4 separate regions of the Homo sapiens genome follow, and regions 1, 3 and 4 are each linked to region 2. Evidence: fine-mapped expression QTL. A gene starts in region 2. Each other region holds a variant in brackets. All regions are shown on one strand. Distances are from middle to middle.

Evidence for each region.
Region 1: its variant is fine-mapped to the expression of TM9SF2 in whole blood (TOPMed, PIP 0.98).
Region 3: its variant is fine-mapped to the expression of TM9SF2 in whole blood (TOPMed, PIP above 0.99).
Region 4: its variant is fine-mapped to the expression of TM9SF2 in whole blood (TOPMed, PIP 0.98).

What each region holds. Positions count from the first base shown.
Region 1 is chr13:99,541,119-99,547,257 of GRCh38, forward strand. It overlaps TM9SF2 (transmembrane 9 superfamily member 2), which reads left to right. Exons shown (of 17, transcript NM_004800.3): 9 at 441-549; 10 at 2,745-2,877; 11 at 5,867-5,986. Among named protein-coding and RNA genes, the nearest start is that of LINC01039, 33 kb to the right of the region's middle. RefSeq lists a silencer at 1,713-1,782 and enhancers at 2,133-2,192, 5,160-5,309. The variant C/A (reference allele first, on the strand shown) is at 3,236.
Region 2 is chr13:99,498,206-99,504,344 of GRCh38, forward strand. It overlaps TM9SF2 (transmembrane 9 superfamily member 2), which reads left to right and starts at 3,267. Exons shown (of 17, transcript NM_004800.3): 1 at 3,267-3,572. The coding sequence starts at 3,402. LINC01232 (long intergenic non-protein coding RNA 1232) reads right to left here and starts at 1,101. Exons shown (of 5, transcript NR_110731.1): 1 at 481-1,101. LINC00449 (long intergenic non-protein coding RNA 449) reads right to left here and starts at 2,858. Exons shown (of 2, transcript NR_133664.1): 1 at 2,190-2,858; 2 at 1,518-1,735. RefSeq lists enhancers at 355-564, 575-694, 2,973-3,152, 3,059-3,647.
Region 3 is chr13:99,473,268-99,479,406 of GRCh38, forward strand. No RefSeq gene overlaps it. Among named protein-coding and RNA genes, the nearest start is that of LINC01232, 23 kb to the right of the region's middle. The variant G/A (reference allele first, on the strand shown) is at 2,650.
Region 4 is chr13:99,429,600-99,435,738 of GRCh38, forward strand. It overlaps LNCARGI (lncRNA antiviral response interferon signaling inducer), which reads right to left and starts at 3,151. Exons shown (of 2, transcript NR_197585.1): 1 at 2,788-3,151; 2 at 1-329. RefSeq lists enhancers at 2,278-2,457, 2,468-2,547, 2,791-3,990, 2,998-3,727. The variant T/C (reference allele first, on the strand shown) is at 3,280.

The DNA of each region.
Region 1 (6,139 bases), 43 kb after region 2:
TTCAAACATGATTCAAAACTTTTATCTAGAGTTGTTCATGTTGCCATAACTCTCCTTTTCCTATTGCTGTCTGATCTTTTTGACACTCACTAATTTACTGAGTAAAGTTGTTCTTCAGTAAATTTCTTGAGGGCACAAGCCAGTCCTTTGTTGTGGCAGTGATTTGGGCACAGTAGTTATTTCATAATATTGACCATGTACCAAAAAATTCTAGTTCTAAACAGACTATGAAACTGTATTATGATAAGTATATAATGTTATTTATCTACTGGAGGGAAACATGAAAGAACACAGTTCATTGAATTTGTTGGATTTCAGATAGCTTTCATTTTGATTTTGATCAAGACTGTTTTAATGTTACTCAATAAACAGTTTTTAAAAGAGTTTTACTGTTCCTAGGATTAAGCTACAGATTACTCATGATGTGCTTATTTCTACAGCATTATGAATTCCCTGGTCATTGTTCTCTTCTTATCTGGAATGGTAGCTATGATTATGTTACGGACACTGCACAAAGATATTGCTAGATATAATCAGATGGACTCTACGGTAAGTGGAAACATTTTAGTCTTTAGTCTGCCAAGGACACTGTTTATTGTTATTTTGCAAAAAGGTAAAATAATAGCTTTAGAATCTGCTTTTAAAACATTCTTCAAAAAACAAAAACAAAAACAAAAAAATTCTTCTCAAAAGTTATCTTGAATTCACATTTTCAAATAAGAAAGTGATACTTAAGAATTAATATTCTTGGCTGGGCGCGGTGGCTCACACCTGTAATCCCAGCACTTTGGGAGGCCGGGGTGGGCGGATCACCTGAGGTCAGGAGTTCAAGACCAGCCTGACCAACATGGTGAAACCCCATCTCTCCTAAAAACACAAAAATTAGCTGGGTGTGGTGGTGGGGACCTGTAGCCCCAGCTACCTCGGGAGGCTGAGGCAGGAGAATTGCTTGAACCCAGGAGGCGGAGGCTGCAGTGAGCCAAGATCGTGCCACTGCACTCCAGCCTGGCAACAGAGCAAGACTCTGTCTCAAAAAAAAAAAAAAAAAATAGAAATGGAGTCAGCACAGCCTTGGGAGCTGACCTGTTCACAGCCTCCTGTGTGGGAATGGACTGGTGCAGCGTGGGGTGTAGGTGCACAGTTACAACTCTGTAAGGTTTCTCCATCCCTGACACATACCTGTTTGTGAAACCACAAAGTTGAATGGAATAACTCCTAAGCAATTTTTATTTGTGTGGTTAATTTTTTAAAATTAATCTTAACAAATTTGTATCATTTCAACCTTTTGATATATTTAAAATAATTGCATGTTCCAGCCTCTTTAGTCTCAAACTTTTTAAGTTGCACAGTGTTACACATTTTCTACTCTTCATTTCATGGCAGCATAATAAAAGAATTTTCACAAGAATCACAGTAATTTGGAATGAATGCAAAAAACTCAGGTTTTTATTGTATTCTCTTCCCCCAGCTTCTTCAGCCTCCTGTCCCCCAACCTCTCTGACCTGTTCTGATTGGGGAAAATATATATGAATATTCATAAGCTTTTAACGTTTGTACTCTATAGTCTCTTTCCTATGATTTTTATTGATTTTATGTCTTATTAAATATTAAAATGATTTTAAAATACTCTGTTTATAATTGGCTGTTCCACATAATTGCTGTTAATGGAGTTTTATCTTAATTTGCACAGCGTTGCCATGTGGAACCAGGCCAGTGGTGACTCTGCTTCCACAACCCTGTCCTACTTCCCATCTCTTAGCACAGCAGTCAGAGTGAAACTGCTCAAACAGAAGTCAGATCATTTCACTCTTGAGCACGGCCCTCCAGGGACTTCTGTTCAGTCAGAGCAAGAGTCAGAGGCTTTACAGTGGCTTCTAAGGCCCCACGTTACCTCAGCACTCTGCTGCACCTGTGCCGGCTACCTTGCTGTTCCTCAGACCAGGCAGACATAGGTTTCCACCTCAGAGCCTTCACGAAGCTCACTGTTTTATCTGCTAAGAAGGTCTGCCCCTCATTTACATGGCTAGTTCCCTTACCTCCCTCCGATCTTTACAAAATGTGATCTTCCCATTGAACCCCTCCCAGCCATCACATATGTTACATCCTGTCCTGCACACACCCATACATCCTGTTTTTCTGTACAGCGCTTATTACCATCTAATGTACAGTATACTTTCCTGACTTATTTTGTTTATTGTCTGCCTTCCCAATGAGATCATGTACTCCTGAGAGTAGGAATTTTTCTGTTACACTCACTGTGGTATCTGGTGTTTTAAACAGAGCCGAGCTTATAGTTGGTGCTCAATGAATGTTTACATCCATGCTTACTGTATTAGCAAAGTAGCTAGAATATGAGAGCTAATGCCATTTGCTTATTGTGGAGATCATTAAGAGTAGGATGAAGAGGATAGAATGTGACTAAAAATCGTCATCAAGTCAGATCACAAAGCTTGACTTAGAGTAGAATTAGGTAGCAATCACATTGTCTTTGTAAAGTTTCTCAATAAGTATATTTGTAGACCTTAATGTCATAAATTTAAGAAACTGACATATAAGACAGTTCAGCAAAGCCATATTAAGCTCCATGAGTCAAGCTGTATTCTTCAAAATTGAAATAGGTACTAACATTTTTAAGTTTAAAAAAAACCTGTTTTCTGTAACAGCATATTCAACAGTGAACAAACTGTCTATAGTTGTCTTGTTGATACCATGAGACAATCGAACTGATTTCATTCCCCTTTTAGGAAGATGCCCAGGAAGAATTTGGCTGGAAACTTGTTCATGGTGATATATTCCGTCCTCCAAGAAAAGGGATGCTGCTATCAGTCTTTCTAGGATCCGGGACACAGATTTTAATTATGACCTTTGTGACTCTATGTAAGTGTTAACTGAAAATTTTCAAGTAGAAAATACTTTCTAAATACAGTAATTGCTTAAAAACCAGTTTTTCTGGCCGGGCATGGTGGCTCATGCCTGTAATCCTAGCACTTTGGGAGGCCAAGGCGGGTGGATGACAAGGTCAGGAGTTTGAGACCAGACTGGCCAATATAGTGAAACCCCGTCTTTCTACTAAAAATACAAAAACTGGGCATGGTGGCAGGTGCCTGTAATCCCAGCTACTTGTGGGGCTGAGGCAGTAGCTTGAACCTGGGAGGCGGAGGTTGTAGTGAACTGAGATTGCGCCACTGCACTCCAGCCTGGGTGACAGTGCAAGACTCCATCTCAAAAAAAAAAA[C/A]AAAAAACACCACAGTTTTTCTAAGTGGGTAGGTAAGCCAGATTATTTCTGAGCATCCTTTAGGTTCTCAAAATCTAAGTGACTTGGGGCAGGTTTAGTTGCACCCAAAGACTGACTCTTGGTTTCTCCCTTCAGCTCTTCCTAGACCAAGCCTTTGTCAGGGAGGCACTGGGCTGGAGATGAACAGGTCCTTAAGACCATCAGCATCTGAGTCTAAACAGCCCAGAACTGGGACCATTTAGGGTCTCTTTTACCCAGGCATCGTGGGCAGGCACAGTCTGGTTAGGGTTCCAGGATATTCTTGGCTTCCACGGAGGGAGGAGGGTGGGAAAAGAAGGGATGGGGCAGGAAGCACTGTGTAGATCCTTCTCATCTGGGGAGGATTTGGGAAGCAGGATCTCTCTCCTCTAGGGAAAGCGAGTGTGTAGGAAAGACCTTCCTTCCTCCATAAAAAGATTCTCTTCTTTGAGCTACCTCAGCGACTTCAGAAATTGTATTTAAATTTTTGCCAACTAGGACAATTTTTTTTTTTAAATAAATGTTCCTTAGAGGTATTGATAGCCACAGGGATTGTTCTGAAACTACCTCTGGGTATATGTTAATTCCACTGTCTTCCAGTTTCCTTAATTGGAAGATAAAAAAGGTTTATGAATAGAATTTTCTAAATTTTACCTTTATTTAATGTATTTTACTTTATTGATGCCTGCTACTGATAAATAGCAACAAATGAATATACTGGGAGAATTCAGAAACTAACCTTTAATAATTTTTTAGTAAACATTTATTTTTTATGTTTGATTACATATTAAATACATAATACCACAGTTATTTTTGTTAGTAAAGTTGTTCCAAATTTTTATGATAAAATTAATTATATAAATGCTTTGCAAAGAGCAGTATCATTTTCAAATGTCTGGCACTGAATAAGTTTGGGAACCAAACTCACACCTTCAGGTTCAGTTTGAAGACTGACTAGGATATCTTTTTTTTTTAATCTACTAACAACTTAAGGAGATACAATTTTGATAGGTAGAGCTAGAATTTGTAACTATATCATACTAAAGAGAAGTTAAGTCATACTAAAGAGAATAGGTCAGGAAAAGGTGTCATAAAAAAGGTTTGGACAGAGGGTGGTAGGGTGAAGGCACTGGGTGACAGAGAGCCAAACTAGACTTAGAGCAGAATGAATGTTTGAAGATAAACTTCTGCTTTCTTTCTTTCTTTTTTTTTTTGAGACGGAGCCTCGCTCTGTCACCAGGCTGGAGTTCAGTGGCGTGATCTTGGCTTACTGAAACCTCCACCTCCTAGGTCCAAGTGATTCTTCTGCCTCAGCCTCCTGAGTAGCTGGGATTACAGGCGCCTGCCACCACGCCTGGCTGATTTTTGTATTTTTGGTAGAGACACGGTTTCACCATGTTGTCCAGGATGGTCTCAATCTCTCAACCTCGTGATCCGCCCGCCTCGGCCTCCCAAAGTGCTGGGGTTACAGGCGTGAGCTACCACACCCAGCCAACTCCTGCTTTCAAATCTTATTAGGAGCTGTCTTCTGCGATGCTCTGGTTTTTATTGCGGTCAGCTAGAAAAGTGAACTTTTAAGGAAGGAAAGTTTCAGAGAGTCTAGGATAGAATACGATGGGAATAATTTTCCTTAAGTCCTCAAATAGGAACTTTCTGCCGAAGGGCAGTCCATTTTTCAGGTCGAGGAGGAGAAAGGGGTTGCATTTTAGCTGAAATCTTGTACATCTTCTAAAGCTACCCTGATGTGTTTCCTGCTCATCATGACTCTGGTGCTTGTCAGAGGTGTGTGCGCGTGCTTGCTCACATACGTGCTTGGTCATGCACGTTTTAGGGGAAACAATAGGGGGGGAAACAATGGGGATTTTCTTGCTGAGCCTCCTGAAACTCAGTTCTCAGCAGTATCCTACTCACCTTGGGATTCTGAGCACCTTATAACTTCTGAGCCCCAGCTTAAAGCTGGGAATTTCTATGAATATAATATAGCATTTTAATTCTCATTAGTAGGAAGGCTTACATAGGGAAGAGCAAACAAAGCTAACCACGTGAATAAGGTAGGGCCAGGGTTTCCCCGTATTGCTGACAAGGTCCTTCCGTAATTTGTGAAAAGCTAATGGCCGTATGAAATCTTTCTCCCTCATTTTGTTCTTTCATTAGATTATATATGTCTCTTCTGTTTGAATGTTGTAAGGTTTTGGGTTTTTTTTTTTTTACCCCCAGAGGACCCCCATATTTTTTAATGAAAGAACAGTGGGAATATTTTGTAGTGGAAACATTTTCACTTATGTCAATTTTAAAGGCTGTACTTGAATCTCAGAAGAGTCAAATGCACTCTTGAGCATCCAGTCAGCCTCCCCTGATCACAGGAAGGATGTGATCTCTCATTCTGGACTCTGAGAAGAAACTTCCAAAGTGAAGTTTGCCTCATGTATGATCAGATTGGTGCAGTACAGTAAATATTACTAAGATTGTGTAGAGCTGCATGGTAGGAGAGCACATGGTTTTGCGTGAAGTTGTATTTTTTTCTTGTTTGAAAAATGAGAGGGTTTCTCTATCATTTCACAGCAAAGGAAACAGAGTAATAACATGTACAGCCTTTCACGATTTGTGTTTTAGTTTTCGCTTGCCTGGGATTTTTGTCACCTGCCAACCGAGGAGCGCTGATGACGTGTGCTGTGGTCCTGTGGGTGCTGCTGGGCACCCCTGCAGGCTATGTTGCTGCCAGATTCTATAAGTGTAAGTCAAAGCCACTGTGACTGGCGTCTGATCAGGAAGGGACTCTGCTGCGGCTGTGGATCTGACCTGGGTATCAGATGGTGATGCTTTGTAAATAGTGTGCCTCATAGGGGTCTGTTCTTAGTTAAAAGGAGCCTGCTTGGTGATTCCTTT
Region 2 (6,139 bases):
CTACAACCACTGCTCTACTTTCTGTCTCTATGAATATGACAGCACCATAGTATTGGCGGTAAATCAGAGTTGGCAAATGCAATCTGAAGCAGAGGAGAGGAGAGAGTCATATCCCTCAAGTTTTACAGTCCCATTAAAAGTATTAGTACTTTGAGAAAAGGACCGTCACGATCATGGGGAGAATGAAGGAAAAACTCCATTTCTTTCCAGTTTGCAACTGGAATTGTCACTTTCGTCTTTCGGCACGACAGCGCCCAGGCCACAAAAGCCCACAGGGCAGGGCCTCCATTTTGTGGCCTGCGTGGAGGGCGGGGCGGTCTCTCTCCGCCACGCCCCAGCACCGGGTAGACACCGCAGCCACGTAACCAAGGAACCCCGAATGAGGCGTTGGCCAGGTGAGGCCGGATCCGGAAGTAGGGGGACCACTTCGCCCCGCGTACGAGCCCCGCCCCCGGCCCCTCCCACCAGACCCAGGCCGACCTAGATGACGTGTCCGAGTAGGAGTTGGCGAGGTGCGGCCGGGCGGCCGGCCCTGCGCATGCGTGATACTTGCACCGGTCGAGATGGTAGCATGAGTCTGGAGGTCATTTTCTTTGAGAAAGGCTCCGCTTCTCCGGGTTTTTGCTGATGCCGATCCCGGGGGATTGAGGAAACATTGAGCTCTGGAGTGGAAAAGGTTGCAGACTTTTAGACTCCCAAGTCGTTGTAGTCTCAATCTCTAGTGGCTGCGTTACTGCAGGAAGTCACGGAAGCCTCTCCCCTTTCTTAGGCGCATCCTTGGCTGTAAAAGGAGGTTAAAAGCCCCTGGAAAACCTCAGGTTTATTTCAGCTCTGAAAGTCCGGTTCCAAATTTAGATCCAGCACTCTTGTGGCCTGGCCAGTGATGGTCGTGGAGTGCTTTCCCCGCGCCTGCGGTCTCTAGGCTCTGTGGATGTAGAGGTGTGGGATGTAGGAGCAGGCCCTTACCCGTGGAATTCACATATAAATGGGGGAATGAGACAGCAAACAAACAAACGTGATCCTTCCTGATAGTGGTAAATGTGGGATGCCGAGGTTTAAGCAGACGAGTGGTATTAAGGGATTTCAAGGTTTTATAAAATTGATTTTGCCAAGAGTGGAAGCTGAGAGGCTACTGCAGTAAGAAGTCCAGGGGAACTAAGAATTTGGCTTGGACCAGAGTGGTAGCTGTGGGCATGGAAAGTACTGAAAGGATTTAGCCCATAGTTTAGCAGCCCAACCAACGGGACCTGCTGAAGGACTGGAGGTAGGTAGTGAGGAAATGAGAAATTTAGGTTCTTCTCCAGGGTTGGGGCCTGAAAAGAGATGGGCAGCGATGCCGTTTCCTGGAAAACTGGGAGAGGAAATGTTTGGGATGAGGGCAGTGAGATATAATGAAGGTCAAGTTTTTTTTTTGTTTTTTTTTTTTTTTTTTTGAGACGGAGTCGTGCTCAGTCGCCCAGGCTGGAGTGCAGTGGCGCGATCTCGGCTTACCGCAAGCTCCGCCTCCCGGGTTCACGCCATTCTCCTGCCTCAGCCTCCCAAGTAGCTGGGACTACAGGAGCCCGCCACCACGCTCGGCTAATTTTTTTGTATTTTTAGTAGAGACGGGGTTTCACCGTGTTAGCCAGGATGGTCTCGATCTTCTGACCTCGTGATCCGCCCATCTCGGCCTCCCAAAGTGCTGGGATTACAGGCGTGAGCCACCGCGCCGGCCGAAGGTCAAGTTTCAGTGGTGCTAGGAAAAGAAGATAGTGAGCAAAAATGTTAATTTTTGTTTCCTCCTCTTAATATTTGGAGAAAACGTCTGCTTCCTTTTGTTATATTGGAAATCTCCATGACTTCCAAATACAGAATATTTTACAATTTTTCCCTATCCCAAAGTTCAGCGAATATGTTGATTTATTTGAGGGAGAGGACATGAAAGGGAAGCCACCTAGGCACAATTTTCTGCTCAGGCCCTACCAGATTAGTTTTTGTTATCAAAAAAAAAAAAAAAAGTGCCATTCCTTGGGCCAAGCTATGTGCTCAGCACTTTCCCTCCATTTTTGATTTAATCTTCACAACAACCTTAAGATGAACGTTCTTTTCTACTTCCCAGTTCTCTTGATTAACTTGGCTACCCCACTATATGGATCAATTTGCAGGGTCCTAGGTCCCTTTGAAAATCTGATGAAAGTTATAAACCTTACCTGGGAAAAAAGTACAAACACCCGCAAGAACTTGAAATAGGAGTTCACTGGCCCTCAACTTTCTGAGCTTACTATTTCACAAACCTGCCTATTCTTGAATTCTGAGCTGGAGGTCATGATTCTCTCTTATGTACTTTAAGATGATGCACTCTTCCGAAGTTTTTGATTGAACTCTAGTGGCTAACTGAATTGACTTTTTCAGATCACTAAAAAGCTTCTCCTTGAAAAATACTCAGAAGATGCAACACACACACACACACACGTGTGTGCACTTACACACGCGGACACCGTCTCACATCATCAGTGGGAAAAGTGATAGAATCTTGCTAAAGGCTGATCATACCATATTAATCCGATTCGCCAGAACTACTTTCTTCACTGAGCTCTCAGGTATGCTCGGGTCTTCCTTTAAAGAAAATAAATGTCAACGCTACACTCTATCCTACTCCCATTTTCCTCCTCACCCCATTTCCACTCTCCCTTAAAGAGATGTGTGCACACAATCACTGCCCAATGCAAGAATGCACCACTGCATCCAATGCTTGGAAATTGTCCGTGAAGATGCCTTTGAGTAGCTGTCTATTTGAGGATTTGTGGCTAATTCCTCCCCATTTGTTTCCTTAGCCTGCTCCCAACCAGGTGTCTCCAGAACTTTTTCTCTCCGCCACCAACTCCGCCTCCAGACAGACCGCAGGTGCTTTCTGTCATAGGGACTGGCGTGCCGCGGACAGTGTGACAAAGAAACTGTATGATGGATATGAGAACTTCGTAAGACCCAGCAGCAAACGGGGAGCGGCTGGCGAGCGCTCCACAGCCCCCAAGCGTGGGAGCTCTAGATCGGAATTTGTAATTTGGAATTGGAACGTGAGCGCCGGAACAGCTCTCCCAGCAACCACCTCTCCCAGCAACCACCTCAGCTGGCGCGCGGAAAACCCGGAAAGTGGATTTCGCCCCCGCTCCCTCCCGGAAACTCCTCCTGGTGCCTGCGACCGTTCTCACTGAGCATGTGCAGACGGCGGTGCGCATGCTCTGTTGCGGTCCGCTTCGGTTTCTGTTGCGGGACCCGGGGTGTCTCCTAGCGCAACCGGAACTAGCCTTCTGGGGGCCGGCTTCCTTTATCTCTGGCGGCCTTGTAGTCGTCTCCGAGACTCCCCACCCCTCCTTCCCTCTTGACCCCCTAGGTTTGATTGCCCTTTCCCCGAAACAACTATCATGAGCGCGAGGCTGCCGGTGTTGTCTCCACCTCGGTGGCCGCGGCTGTTGCTGCTGTCGCTGCTCCTGCTGGGGGCGGTTCCTGGCCCGCGCCGGAGCGGCGCTTTCTACCTGCCCGGCCTGGCGCCCGTCAACTTCTGCGACGAAGAAAAAAAGAGCGACGAGTGCAAGGTGGGTGAGGCCTGACGAGCCCTCTGATGCACTGTTGGAAGGGGAAGTCGTCCCTATCCGGGGGAGCTGATCCTCGGGTGGGAGCGAGGGAAGGGGGCGTAGCAGCGGGTGGGGTTGAGTTTCCCCAGAAGCTTTTGGGGTCTGCTGGGCTGTGGGTGGGGGGCTCTGAAACAGCCCTTGCAAGGGTAGTTTCTGGAGGACGCAGTGGGCCTCAGACTCGCCTCCCGTCTTGCGGGCCAAGTGGCACGAGCAGCTGTATTCAGTTTTCCTGGAACAGGGACCGTGTGGAGCGCCCTTGGAGTTGGGCTTCACGCCTCAGAGCTTTGGAGTTGGATGTATGCAGGTCCACGCGTGAGTGTTCGCTCACAGCCCTGTAACATGTACGCTGAGGAAGCGGGTGACCGACTCCCTACATGTGAGCAACACTCAGCCTAGTTAACAGTTTCCATTAGCTTTTAACTTCATTGCTTCCTGTTTAATTGCATTTTCCTGGAACCTTCTAGTTGGTTAGGAGAGCTTGTTCTTTCTAGGACTTTGATATCTCGCTTCACAATTAGAAGTTGGTTCCTTATTTGTGGAGTATAACACCCAGAGCCACACAAAGTGCATTAATAAAGAGTTGCTGTAATGGTTGAGGCACTTGATTTCTGAGTTTTAAGTGTAAAAGATTTTAATACACAAAAAAAGATACGAGGTCTCACTATTTTCTCTGAGATGGTTTTAAACACTTAAAAGGGGCAAATGGTGGGAGAAACTGGTGTTTTCCTAGGGCAAGTCTTGAAAACTTTGATCTCTTACAACATTCACACTCAAGGTTTTCAGTTTAATTGCTAGTAAAAGAGGCGTAAATAAAGTAACCTGCTTTTAGGTTATATGGTGTAGGGCTTTACAGTATACATACACAATTATTTCGTTAAGTTTATTTAAAACTTAACATTTGGGGGATGAGGATCTCTTTGAAACCTTTAATGATTTCAACAATTCAAATAATCGTTCAACAAACGTTTACAATCTATAAATAGGCTTATTTATTAAGTTTGATTTTTTTAAGCTGGTGTTTATTACAGTTAGCTTTACTATAGCTGTGAATTTTGAGGTTATTTTAGGGCATTAGATAAGCTTTAAATTTTTCATAACATTTTGCAGTTTCTTTTTAGGTTGTCAGCTATCTTGAATGACATGTTTATACATCTGTGCAAAACCTTGTATCTGAAAAAATATCTAAGGATATTTAAGGTTTACTCAAGTCTGCAGTTAGTGTTTCAGTACTTAAGTTCATACTCTGCAGTGCAAGAAGCTTTCACTCCTTTTTGAGGATTCTGACTGAAAGACTGTTGTTGTGCTTCCAAGTGGAAGATCTAGACTTGCAAGTACACTGGTTTTTCCATTAAATATTTTAGTAACCAACCTTTAAGGCCTAGTGTTTGGTCTTACTTTAACAGCAGTTGTATATTCTATTCCTAGTGCCTCAAAGATGAAAAATATATTTCCTGCCCTCTGGGAACCTCAAAGTAAGGGACATAAGCTTATGAACAGATTATTGAAATCTGATCTGTTACACAGGATGATGTCCAAAGTGTGCTAAAACAAAATGAGGAAACATCAGTGGACTAGAGTCTTTAGGGAAAGCTCTATAGAAGAAGTGACAGGGCCAGGTGTGGTGGCTCACGCCTGTAATCCCAACACATTGGGAGGCCGAGGCGGGTGGATCACCTGAAGTCAGGAGTTTAAGACCAGCCTGGCCAATATGGTGAAACCGCGTCTCTACTAAAAATACAAAAATTAGCTGGGCGTGGTGGCGGGCATCTGTAATCCCAGCTACTCGGGAGGCTGAGGCAGGAAGAATCGCTTGAACTCTGGAGGTGGAGGTTGCAGTGAGCTGAGATCGCGCCATTGCACTCCAGCCTGGGCAACAGAGCGAGACTTTGTCTCAAAAAAAAAAAAAAAAAAAAAAAGAAGAAGAAGTGACATTTGAGATGGACTTAGAAAATGAATAAGTGAAACTTATAGGTGGTCTTCCAGTTAGATGATTGTTTTCTCAACAGGTCCTTTGGTAAGTGGCTAGGTTGTATTCTAGTTATTTTTTAGTTAATCTTGGGAGTCATTTTGGATGTTTAATTTTCATAGGTATAGGGATAAAACAGGCAGAGCAGATCATTTTTCCGAAATGTTTGGATTTTTATCTTTATTGCCAGCTACACTCACATCTGGTTAATGGAAACAACTCTTAGAAGAGCAGGAGGGTGTACTTTCAGCTTTTTTCCTGCGATATGACTAACTGGTGTAGAGAATTTGAAATACACTTTAATATTTATTTTCTTTGCCTTTCAAAGAAGATGCTATAAATAACAGTAAACAGTTGAAATTTGTATTACTTCAATCAGGATGTTAATAATTTATTCTCATCTATTTCGTATTTGTTAAGGAGGACAGTCTTGTACACATTATTCAGAAAAGTGGAAGGAACTTCTTTTAAAAATTAGAAATGAGAGTTGTGAAATGGAAATAATTTTTTCCAAAAGATGCTGTTAAGTTAGTGAATCTGAAGTTGGAGAAATTGGGCAGGT
Region 3 (6,139 bases), 25 kb before region 2:
CAAAAAAAAGAATTATTTGATTTTATTTTAGGTTCCAGAACTAATAATGGGAGTCGAGGCCAAATCTTTAAGAGGTTACAAATGCCTGTTAATGGCTTTAGTGATATCTTTGTGCTGTGTGGTGTCATTCTCAAAGGCAGACAATTGCTCTACCAAATTGCCAACTTGAAGCATAGTGTCTGATAACAACTGTGGATTTTTGAAAAACAGCATTGCCCTGTGGGATGCCTGTGGCCTCACTTACTGCTGGTAGTCATGGCAGGAATGGATGCGGGAGGCTGGGATCCCCCAGCGTGGCTGGGAGTGTTGACTGCCATCTTCCCTTAGGGGTGTGCATCTGAGGTCCATGCTGCTCCTCAGAATCTCAGAATTCTGTCGTGGGTGCTGCAAAAACTGACTAAGGAGGCCAAATGCACTTGGTTTACATTCTTCTCTCTAGATCTTTGGATAAAACAATTTAAAAATTTCGCCCAGTGTAACTTTGTTTATTTTTGTGAAGCAAAATCAAATAAGCCAAGTGCCATTGGAACTCCTGGCAGCTTCCTAATACTTAATACTTGATGAAAGTCCTGCAAGACAATCCAGACTTGATGAGGACGGGAAGCCGATATTTAGTCGATGATGGCATCATCACGTCGATGTTTTTTTCATTTCCTAAGGAATGCTGGCTGCACACCAAGAAATGAAAGTTGTTGGTTAATGGATGCTAATGGGAAACCTAATGAGGCAGTGGAGGCCAGCACTTTTCACGCTATGGCCCATGGCAAAGCAGAAGATTGATGGAGAGATGAGAGCACTGCCAGTTCTTCTATAAGTAAAAGAAACATCTCATCCAAAAGATGTTTCTCCAGTAATGGGGTGAAGCTCCTTTACCCACAGAAGGCTGAACCAGTATGAAACAAGGCCAGGCATCACTCAAGTTAGTCCAATAGCAAAATGCATTTACATACGTAAATAAATATATATATTACCTTTCTATACGACGACATCTCTCTTTTTTTTTTTTTGAGATGGAGTTTTGCTCTTGTTGCCTAGGCTGGAGTGCAATGGTGCGATCTTGGCTCATCGCAACCTCTGCCTCCTGGGTTCAAGCGATTCTCCTGCCTCAGCCTCCCAAGTAGCTGGGATTACAGGCATGCGCCACCATGCCCAGCTAATTTTGTATTTTTAGTAGAGATGGGGTTTCTCCATGTTTGTCAGGCTGGTATTGAACTCCCAACCTTAGGTGATCCGCCTGCCTTGGCCTCCCAAAGTGCTGGGATTGCAGGCATGGGCCACCACGCCCGGCCGATGACATCTCTTTACAAAGAAAACGTGTGTTCATTATTTCTAAAAATAGAAATATTACATAGTCAAAAGGGGGGAATCACCTTTATTCAACTATCACCTTTATTCAACTGCAAAGAAATAACCCACTGTTGGTATTTTCACGTGTGTCTTTCCATTCTTTTTTGTTTAAATATATATGTATATTTTAAAAAATCTTCCTGTGAATTTTAAGATATGTATAGATTTGTGTGGCCCCCACCAAAATCAGACTATCCAACAGTTCTATCACCCCCTCAAAATCCCCTCTTATATACCTCGATAGTCACACCTCCCTCCCTTGAATCTCTGCATCTACTGATCTGTTTTCAGTCACTGTGGTGTTAGGTTTTTGAAATGTCGTATAAATAGAGTCATAGAGAATGTAACCTCCTAAGACTCAGTGTGTATGACATTAATCCGTGGTGTTGTATGTATCAATAGTTCATTCCTTTTTATTGCTAAGTACTATTCCATTGTATGACTGTTCCCATGGTTTGTTTATTCATTTACTGGTTGAAAGGCATTTGTGTTGTTTCCAATTTTGGTGATTGTGAATAAAGCTGCTATAAGTAGTTACACACAAATTTTCGTGTGAGCATAAGCTTTCATTTCTCTAGGGTTTAAATACCTAGGAGTGGGATTAATGGGTCATATGGTAAGTGTATGTTTAACTTTGTAGGAAACTGTCAAACTTCCCGCCTAAGCAACAGAGCAAGACCCAGTCTGATATAGTTTGGATGTTGTCCCTATCCAAATCTCATGTTGAAATGTAATCCCCAGTGTTGGAGATGGGGCTTGGTGGGAGGTGATTGGATCATGGGTGCAGATTTCTCATGAATGGTTAAATATCATTCTCTTGGTACTGTCCTCGCGAGATGTGGTTGTTTAAAAGTGTGTAAAAGGAAAATATCTTGGGGCCCCAAAAATCACTAAGTTAAAAGGAAAAGTCAAGCTGGGAACTGCTTAGGGCAAACCTGTCTCCCGTTCTATTCAGTCACCCCTCTGCTCACTGAGATAAATGCATATCTGATTACCTTCTTTGGAGAGGCTAACCAGAAACCCAAAAGAATGGAACCATTTGTCTCTTATCTACCTATGACCTGGACGCCCCCTCCCCACTTTGAGTTGTCCCGTCTTTCTGGACTGAACCAACGTTCACCTTACATACGTTGATTGATGTCTCATGTCTCCCTAAAATGTATAAAAGCATACTGTGCTCTGAGCATTTTGGCCACATGTCATCAGGACCTCCTGAGGCTGTGTCACAAGTGTGTGTCCTCAATGTTGGCAAAATAAACTTTCTAATTTAACTGAGACCTGTCTCAAATTTTCTGGGTTCAA[G/A]TTTTGGTAACCATGAAGGGATTCTGAGCGGAGGTGCCCCTGACCTTTGACAAATCTATTGGTGCTTGGAACCAGCATGAGCTAATTTTATGGCTCAAGCCAATAGGACAATTTGCTGAGGTCTGGGAGAACCCCCTCCAGAGAATCCCTGATCTCCCAAAATTTGGTCAAGATCTAAAGTTTATTTTGCTGTACAACTCCCTTTTTCTTTTGAGTTTTACTTGCTTCCAACAAGGAAGGCAAGTTTTTCCTGCTTCCATGACAACGGAAGGCAGGTAACTCCTTTATGGAGTTTGAGCTCACTTCCAACAAGAAGGATGAGGGTTTTTTCCTGCTTTTAGGGTGATAGAGAGCAGTCTTCAGCCTGAGACCCATCCCTAGGTAAGTAACTGAATTGGGGTTTGTCTTGGCTAAAGTTAAGATTAACAACCAGCTTGTCTTAATTTCTCCTCACCACTAGAGCGCTCAATAGTTGTATAAGTTGTGCGATCATTTGTTTTGCTTAACTGCGTTTTTTGTTGTTGTCGTTTGTTTCTGTTCTTGTTGTTGTTTCAGTCTTTTTCCCACTGGGTTTGATCAACTCTATCCGGCTTGATCAAATCCAAAGGAAAGTTCCAAATTATGGGGAACAAGGCCTCTGAAGTGGCTAAATTCCACCCCGCCACCCCCCCCCCACACACACACAAAAGGTGGTATGGTGGGGGAGAAAAACGGCCGGAAAAGGAAACCAAAAAAAAAGAGGAAAGATTTTTCATTTTGACTACTAAGGGACTTTATTTACATAACAAGGCCACCTTTTTGCTAGCGAGGCCCAACCAAGAGAGCAATGGCTGTACTTCTGAAATAGCAGCAATTTGTCCTAGCTGAAATATGGTGATGAGATCTTAAAAGATTTTTTTTAAAGGAGCTCAATGATGAAAAGTCAGCTTAATTAAAAGCTAACATTCAAGAAGTGTGTGTGTATGTGTGCGTGTGTGTATGTATGCATGTGTGTGTGCATATGTGTATGTGTGCATGTGTGTGCATGTGTGTGTACGTGTGTGTATGTGTGTGTGCATGTGTGTGTATGTGTGCATGTGTGTGCATGTGTGCGTGTGTGTATGTGTGTGCATGTGTGCGTGTGTGCATGTGTGCGTGTGTGTATGTGTGCGTGTGTGTGTGTGTGCGTGTGTGTATGTGTGCGTGTGTGTATGTGTGCGTGTGTGTATGTGTGCGTGTGTGTATGTGTGTGCGTGTATGTGTGCGTGCGTGTGTGTATGTGTGCGTGTGTGTATGTGTGCGTGGGTGTATGTGTGCGTGTGTGTATGTGTGCGTGTGTGTATGTGTGCGTGCATGTGTGTATGTGTGCATGTGTGCGTGTGTGTGTATGTGTGCGTGTGTGTGTATGTGTGCGTGTGTGTGTACGTGTGCGTGTGTGTATGTGTGCATGTGGGTGTGTGTGTGCATGTGTGTGTATGTGTGCGTGTGTGTGTGCGTGTGTGTATGTGTGCGTGTGTGTGTATGTGTGCATGTGTGTGTGTTTGTATTTAAAAGGCCTTCATATTTTTGCTTTTGTTTTTCCCCTAGGATCTTGTCTTTTTTTTCAGCAAAAGTTTTTTTCTTCTCAGTTGACCGAATTCTGTTTTCTTCATTTACTTCTGCTGTGTCTTCTTTCTCTTGCACTCTCTGTAGCATGGGTAACCTAAAATAGTTTATAATAGCCTGGGGTTCCTTAAAGAAAACTGAGAAGGCGCCAGACTCCCTCTGAGGGAGAAACCTGTTTTTCCTTATGGAACCCCAAGAATGTAAACAGACAAGTTCATCTCAGCTCTTAAACGGCTTACTTTTGTATTGTGTTACCTGGTGTGTTTTTCAACTAAAATAGTTATTGCAACAGAGGTTACTCTCGGGTTTTTAAGGAAGAGTGTGGTTTAGACACTTAGAAATATGTTTGTTAAAAAAAAGTTTTTTTCTTTAAGTGCACTGTAAGAGCATCACATGGTCTAGCCTCATAATAATTCTCCCTTTTTGGAGACCGAGATTCAATTTCATACCTATCCCTACCAGATACTACAAAGCATCAAAATTTGGCATAGGGGTTACAAAACTATAAACCCAACCCAAAACAGAATGATCTTTGCTTGTGTAGTCTTTAATAAATAAGACATTGATATTGGTTTAATAAAAATAGCTACATCTCAAATTTAGTAAGATTACCATAACTTCTAATCTTATGGCTTTAGGTGGTCTAGTCCACAGCCAGTAAGGTTTGTTATCATCTTTGTTTCAAGCTAAAATATAAACTAAGTTCCTCCCAAAGTTAGTTTGGCCTATGCCCAGGAATGAACAAGGACACCTTGGAGGTTAAAAGCAAAATGGAGTCAGTTAGGTCAAATCTTTTCACGTCTCAGTTACAATTTTGCAATGGCGGTTCCATAGCTTTAAATGATGACTATCACAGTTTTCATAAATAATCTAGGTAAACAATTAAAATGAAATAATTAGGTAAATGTAATAGGATAAATACTTGTAGACAAACTCATAATTTAGAATCTAAAGTTATATTAAACTAAATGATAAATATTTCATTATTTGGGTATTTTCCAATAAAAATATATTTATAGGAAAACATTATTTCTAAAAAAAAAAAAAAAAATCTGTCCTTTTAAAAAAGGTGAACTTAGCTGGGCACGGTGGGTCACGCCTGTAATCCCAGTACTTTGGGAGGCCGAGGCGGGTGGATCATGAGGTCAGGAGAGCGAGACCATCCTGGCTAACACGGTGAAACCCTGTCTCTACCAAAAATACAAAAAATTAGCCGAGCATGGTGGCAGGCACCTGTAGTCCCAGCTACTCGGGAGGCTGAGGCAGGAGAGTGGCATGAACCCAGGAGGCGGAGCTCACAGTGAGCTGAGATTACGCCACTGCACTCTAGCCTGGGGGACAGAGCGAGACTCCATCTCAAAAAAAAAAAAAAAATGGTGAACAGTGGCCGGGCGCAGTGGCTCATGCCTATAATCCCAGCACTTTGGGAGGCCGAGGTGGGCAGATCAGCTGAGGTCAGGAGTTCAAGACCTGCCTGGCCAACATGGCAAAACCTTGTCTCTACCAAAAATACAAAAAATTGGCTGGGCATGGTGGCGGGTGCCTGTAATCCCAGCTACTCGGGAGGCTGAGGCAGGAGAATCACTTGAACCTGGGAGGTGGAGGTTTCAGTGAGGAGAGATTGTGCCATTACACTCCAGCCTGGGTGACAAGAGCGAAACTCTGTCTCAAAAAAAAAAACATTTGAACAATTTTTTGTCTAATTCAAAGCTTATTTAAAGGTCATGTATAAAACAAGGTAAAAGGAACCAGGAAATAAGAGAGATGTAAAGAAAGTTATAAAAATAATGAGGGTTTTTTTTGGTAAGAAACTTAAAGAGAAATAATTTCATATGAGAAAGAATCTTGTATGATAAATTTAGTCCTAGGGTAAAATGACTGGTTGTTTAAGAAGGAGGGATGTTCA
Region 4 (6,139 bases), 69 kb before region 2:
ATTCTTAGGAGTGGAGTGGCTGAGAATTCTGGACTCTCCACTCAGCTTTGTTCTTTTATTTGCCCGTTCTAATCACAAAAACTCTATATTCTGGTTTCATTCTTGGTTATAGTACGGATCTTGTTGCTGTTGTGAGTAGCTTCCTTTCCCGCTTCATTTTCTCATTAAAAATGAGTGATTTTCAGCCAGGGGTGGTGGCATGTGCCAGTAGTCCCAGCTACTTGGGAGGCTGAGCGGGGAGGATCGTTTGAGCTCAGGAGTTTGAAGCTGCAGCGAACCGTGATCGTGATCGCTCCACTGCACTTCAGCCTGGGCGACGGAGCAAGAGCCTGTCTCAAAACAAAAATGGTTTTTGAAAAATCATTGATGTTTGTATTGTGGTAAAATACATATAATGTAAAATTTACCATTTAAACATGATTACATAGCATTAAATACATTCACATTGTTGTGTAACCATCACCACCATCCATCTCCAGAACTTTATCTTCCTCCCAAACAGAAACTCTGTACCCACGAAACACTGACTCCCCATTTCCCCTCCCCCAGCCCCTGGCACCCCCCATTCTACTTTCTAAGAATTTGATGACTCTAGGGACCTCATACAAGAGGATTCATATAGTGTTTATCCTTTCATGATTGGCTTATTTCACTTGGCATAACATCCTCAAGGGTCATCCTGTTGTAGAATATGTCAGGATTTCCCTCTTTTTGAAGGCCGAATCATATTCTGATGTAAGCATATATCACGTTTTCTTTATCCATCCATCTGTTGATGAACACTTGGGTTGCGTCCACCTTTCAGCTAAGGTGAATAATGCTGCCGTGAACATGATTGTGTAAATCTCTCTTCAAGTCCCTGCTTTCAATTCTTTTAGATACATACCCAGAAGTGGAATTGCCAGGTCCTAAGGTGATTCTAGACTTAATTTTCTGAGGAGCCACCATAGTGTTTTCCATAGAGGCCGCACTGTTTTACATTCGCACGAACAGCGCACAGGGGTTCTGATTTCTGCCCCTCCTCACCAACACTTGTGATTTTGTTTTGACAATAGCCATCCTAACGGATGTGAGAGCCATTGATTTTTGTATGGCAATCTTGTATCCAACCATGTCACCAAGCTCTCAGATTAGGTTTTCATTTGATGTCTTGGATTTTCTAGGCATATTGTCACATCATCTGGAATGGTGACAATTTTGGTTTTGTTCACTTTAGTATTCGTGCCCGTTTTTCTGACTTTACTACATTGACAATGACCCACATTACAAGGTTGGAGAGAAGCAGTGATGGCAGGCACCCCTGTTCTCTTAGATTTCGCTGTTATATGTCTTAATCTCTGAGAGTCTCTGTAGCCACCCTTACCAAGTTAGGAATGAGGTGTTCTGAGCCTGGATTGCTAGGAGTTTCATCAACAATATTCACATTCGCCAAATGCTTTTTGGGGTGTCTATTGAGATGCCTGTACGACTCAGTGCAGTGAATTACATTATCAATTCCCTAATGATTCCTCCTGCTTGCGTTTGTCAGAAAAACCTGTTTGTCATAAACTACTCGTGTCCCACCCAGCGTCCCGATGAGATAAGGACTCCACAGGGACTCTGGGCTGCCCTAGGTTGCCCCAAATGAACAGGTGTCCAGTGATTGCAGAAAAAGAGGAGATGGTGATAGATATGGATCATGTCTTTGCCCCCAAAGAGGGCACATCCGTGGGAAAAAAGTCCCAAAGGAGCAAGATTCTTCAAAGAACCGTTGACCCTGTTGTAACAAGATGGAGAAAATTGTATTCATCAAAACTAACCTTGAGGAGAGGTCTGGATGCATTCAGGAGAAGTCCGTTGATTAATAGCTTGAAATGATTGAGCTGACTACCCAAGGAGACCCTCGTGTTGGGCTGAGAACCTGAAGGCTGGGCTGAGCGAGCCAGGACAGGAGCTTGGACAGAGCCTCCTTGTCTGTGGAGTGATGGGAGAGGAAGCAAAGAAGGAAGGCACAAAGCCAGAAAGCACAGCAGTAGTTGGGAAAAAGGAGAAAAAGAAAAGATGCGGCCGGGCGCGGTGGCTCACGCCTGTAATCCCAGCACTTTGGGAGGCCGAGGCGGGCGGATCACAAGGTCAGGAGATCGAGACCATCCTGGCTAACACGGTGAAACCCTGTCTCTACTAAAAATACAAAAAATTAGCCGGGCGTAGTGGCGGGCGCCTGTAGTCCCAGCTACTCAGGAGGCGGAGGCAGGAGAATGGTGTGAACCTGGGAGGCGGAGCTTGCAGTGAGCTGAGATCGCACCACTGCACTCCAGCCTGGGCGACAGAGCGAGACTCCGTCTCAAAAAAAAAAAAAAAAAAAAGAAAGAAAAGAAAAGATGCAAACCCTGGCATTGAGGCCCCCCCAAAGCCACCAAGGAGGGCCCCTGGGAGAGCGCGAACTCTGCTCCGGCTGCGGGTGGTTGCTGTGGTCTGTGCCTGTCACTCCCTGCTTGCTGAGGCTTTCGTGCCTCGGGTCCACTGGGGAGCAGGAGAAAGTGCCCAGTTCTGTCTGTAGAGAGGACGTCACTCAGGGAGAGGGGCAGGAGCTGAGGGCACGTGACTTACACCAAGGCTAAGGTGCAACGCGAAGGCCCTGACACCTGAGCCCCTGGGAGTTGAAAGGTGACAGGCTAACTTGGGGGATGAGCGGTAGAGTCCGGAGGTTCTAAATGGAGCACAAGTGGACCCTCGAGCGACCTGAGAATACAACCCAGAGGGCTCATGAACTGACATGGGAAAACAATGACATCTGTTTTCACTCACCTCTGGTTGAAACTGAGCAGTTCCTTGTATTATGAACATAGGTGGCAACCACTTAGTGTTAGCCAGCAGAAATAACGGGAAGTTTCATTCCACACTTTCGTTGTTGCCAGTATCTCAAAATGTTATTCAGGCTCATTGCTATTTCAAAATCCCATGGTCAGAGACCCATCCTCCCGGGTATCAGAAAGCATGGGAGCCCTGACCCTGACGGCCACCAGGCTGCAGGCAGAGGGGCATGGCCCACTTGGACCTGAGGGTGTGTCATTCAATCCAGCAAACATTCATTGAGCACATTCTCTGTGCTGGCCACCAGGTCCAAAGATGAACAAGGCCGAGACCCCGCCAGGAGGAACTCAGGGAATGCGACAGGCACAGATGAGCAAGACAATAGTGACAACGCAGCATGATTCATGCTGAGAGTGCCGGGGAGGGCGGGAGGCCAGGCAGGGTTTCTCACGGGAAGTCACATTTGAACTGGCTTTCTCACACTTG[T/C]GAAAGTGCGCCCAAGGACGCAGGACTTTCCTGAACCAGAAAAATCCCTGCTCGCGAGTGTGCACATCTCCGCTTAGAGTGCAGAGGAGCAAACAGCAGAAACTTCCCCCGGCTGTGGAGCCGAAACAGGAAACCACCCAGGAGCCCTGTGCAGAAGCGGCCGGGGATTCCCAGTTCCCCAGGACCCAGTGGGCGTTTTCACAGGAAGCCTCTCTGGGTGAAGCCCCTGCTGTACCCGTCCCGCTAGGGATGGAGGCTCCATGAGGTCACAGGTTGTTTTCTGTTTCGTTGGCTAATGAATCTCAAGCATCTATGCCTGGCACGGATTTGCTTTCTACAAATATGTGTTAAATGAATGAAGAAACACAACTGGATCCTTCCAAAATTGACAGGGGCCCAGCACAGTGTCTCATACCTGTAATCCCAGGACTTTGGGAGGCCGAGGCAGGAGGACTGCTTGAGGCCAGGAGTTTGAGACCAGCCTGGACATTGTATTGAGACCCTGTCTTGACAAAGAAATTGTTTTTAATTAGCTGGGCATGGTGATGCACATCTGTAGTCCCAGCTACTCTGGAGGCTGAAGTAGGAGGATCACCTGAGCCCAGAAGCGCAAGGCTGTAGTGAGCAGTGATTGCACCACTGCACTCTAGCCTGGGCAATAGAGTGAGACCCTGTCTAATTTTTTAAAAAATGCTGGGGGCAGCTGGATAAGGCAGGCCGTGGCTCTGTCTCTGTGTGTGGCACTTGTATCTCCAAATCGCCATGGTGCCCTGCATGTAGGTGACCTAGGAAGACACCTCCTCCAGGTCCAGCAGATGTGGAACTGTTTCATGCCATTGAGCAGGTGGAGTGCTGTTGAGGTATGGCTTACTCTGCCCTCTCCCGGGACCACAGGGTGCGCTCTCGCGGGGGTCTGGAGAATCCTAGCAGGTGTCTGAGCTGCCTGGATTAGGGATCTCTTTCCTCAGAGTGTGATCTGAGCTGGAAGGATGGGTTCCAGGCTAGTGGGGGAGGGCTGGGACTATCTTCTCTGGGAGCCTCCATCTTTGGCTCACAGTGGGTGGGCACAGGCACCTCACAAGGCCTGACAGAGGCCAGTCCCCGATCAGTGTAGGGAGAGCAGAGCATTGGAAACCATTGACCAACTTCACCTCCATCACTTCCAGCGAAGTCAGGGGCATACTGCACCCCCACATATTTGTAGGTTGAAGTCCTAACCTCCAGTACCTCAGAATGGGACTGTATTTGGAGACAGGATCTTTAAAGAGGTGATTATGATTAAAAAAGGTCCCATGACTCGTGTCCCTACAAGAAGAGGTGATTAGAACACAGACGCACACAGAGGGAAGACCACGTGAAGCCCCTGGTGGAAGACACTGTGGAGAGGCTCAGGGGAAAGCAGCCCTGCCCGCACCTTGAACCAGGTCCTCCCAGCTTCCAGACGGCGAGGAAATACATTTCTGTCGTCAGAGGCCCCAAGTCTGCTACGGTGGCCTGAGTCTGTTACTGCAGCCCTGAGTCTGTTACAGCGGCCCCGGAGACCCGGCCGAGTCTTCTCACTCAATGAACTTCTTCAATGGGCTCCTCAAGGTGACACCCACATTGTCACCACAAAGAAGAAATAAACAGAGCTGCCCTCCAGAGTCATAGGTCAGAAAGGCCTCGTGACTCAGGAGTGGGTTATCTGGGTGACCTTACTGCTCACTCAGTAAGAAAAACAGCCTTTCAGGCCTGCACTTCCCAGCAGCATAGCCTGCTCCTTCCTGGCTGATGTCAGAGGGCCCGAGTTCCGATAAGCCGCTGTTTGCTAACGTAGGTCTACACAGGTATAACCGCGGGCCCTGAGTCAGGTGAAAGGCCTGATGTCTGCGGGAAGCTTAGTGGGTTTTTATGTGAAAAAAGAAAAGTCTTACGCCATTGGCTGTCTTTCAGCAGGGCTGTTAGAAACGCACCTGGCTCAACAGCACCAAGAGGATGATGAAAGTAAGTCCAGTCTGGGAGTTCCGTGAGGGATTGGCAGCCAGTCTTCACATTTTAAATACATTTTACTTATTAACTGGAAATGCCTTGGGGAACTCTGGCAAGCATGCAGGGACCCCATTCTCTCCACCCCTCTCAGCTCACTGTTTCTTCATTGCTGGGCCTGTCTCTGCCTCCAGCTGGGCTCCACTTTTTTTATTTTTATTTTTATTTTTATTTTGAGACAGGGTCTCAATCTGTTGCCCAGGCTGGAGTGCAGTGGCAGGACCATGGTTCACTGCAGCCTCAACCTCCTGGGCTCAAGCCCAGCTCAGTCACTGGGACAACAGGTGCGCGCCACCATGTGGGCTCCAGTTTAACACGTCCAAACCTCCCTGTACCTTTGGGAAAGTCCAGGCAATTTCTTGGTTTCCCAAATAAGAGTCACTGACGGCCAAAACTCCTTTATCCTTCCCATTGGGGCATTTCCCCTACCATGGTCCACACTGCCTGCCTGACATTGTTAATGAATCCTTCGTGGGCCTAAGCCTGGCAGAGCAGGGCAGGTAGGGATTCCGGAGGTGCAGGTTTTGCTCTTACCTGGCAGAGTAGCTTCCCATTCTGGGCTTCAGTTTGCTCCTCTGCAGGATGAGGATCATAATAACAGCTCCTCAGAGGTCCTTTGTGAATATTAAGGGAGTCACATGTGTATAAACTGTGTCTGGGGTACAATAAATGCTAAAGGTCCCTTCCCTTCCATCCCTTTCCTCCCCCTTGATGGCAGGACTGTGGCTCCGCCTCCTGTCTCCCCTCCTCACCAAGCGCAGTGCTATGCACACACTGAGATCTGAATACAAACGTGCTGATGAATGGATTCCCTGACCTCAGCATGCACCCCATC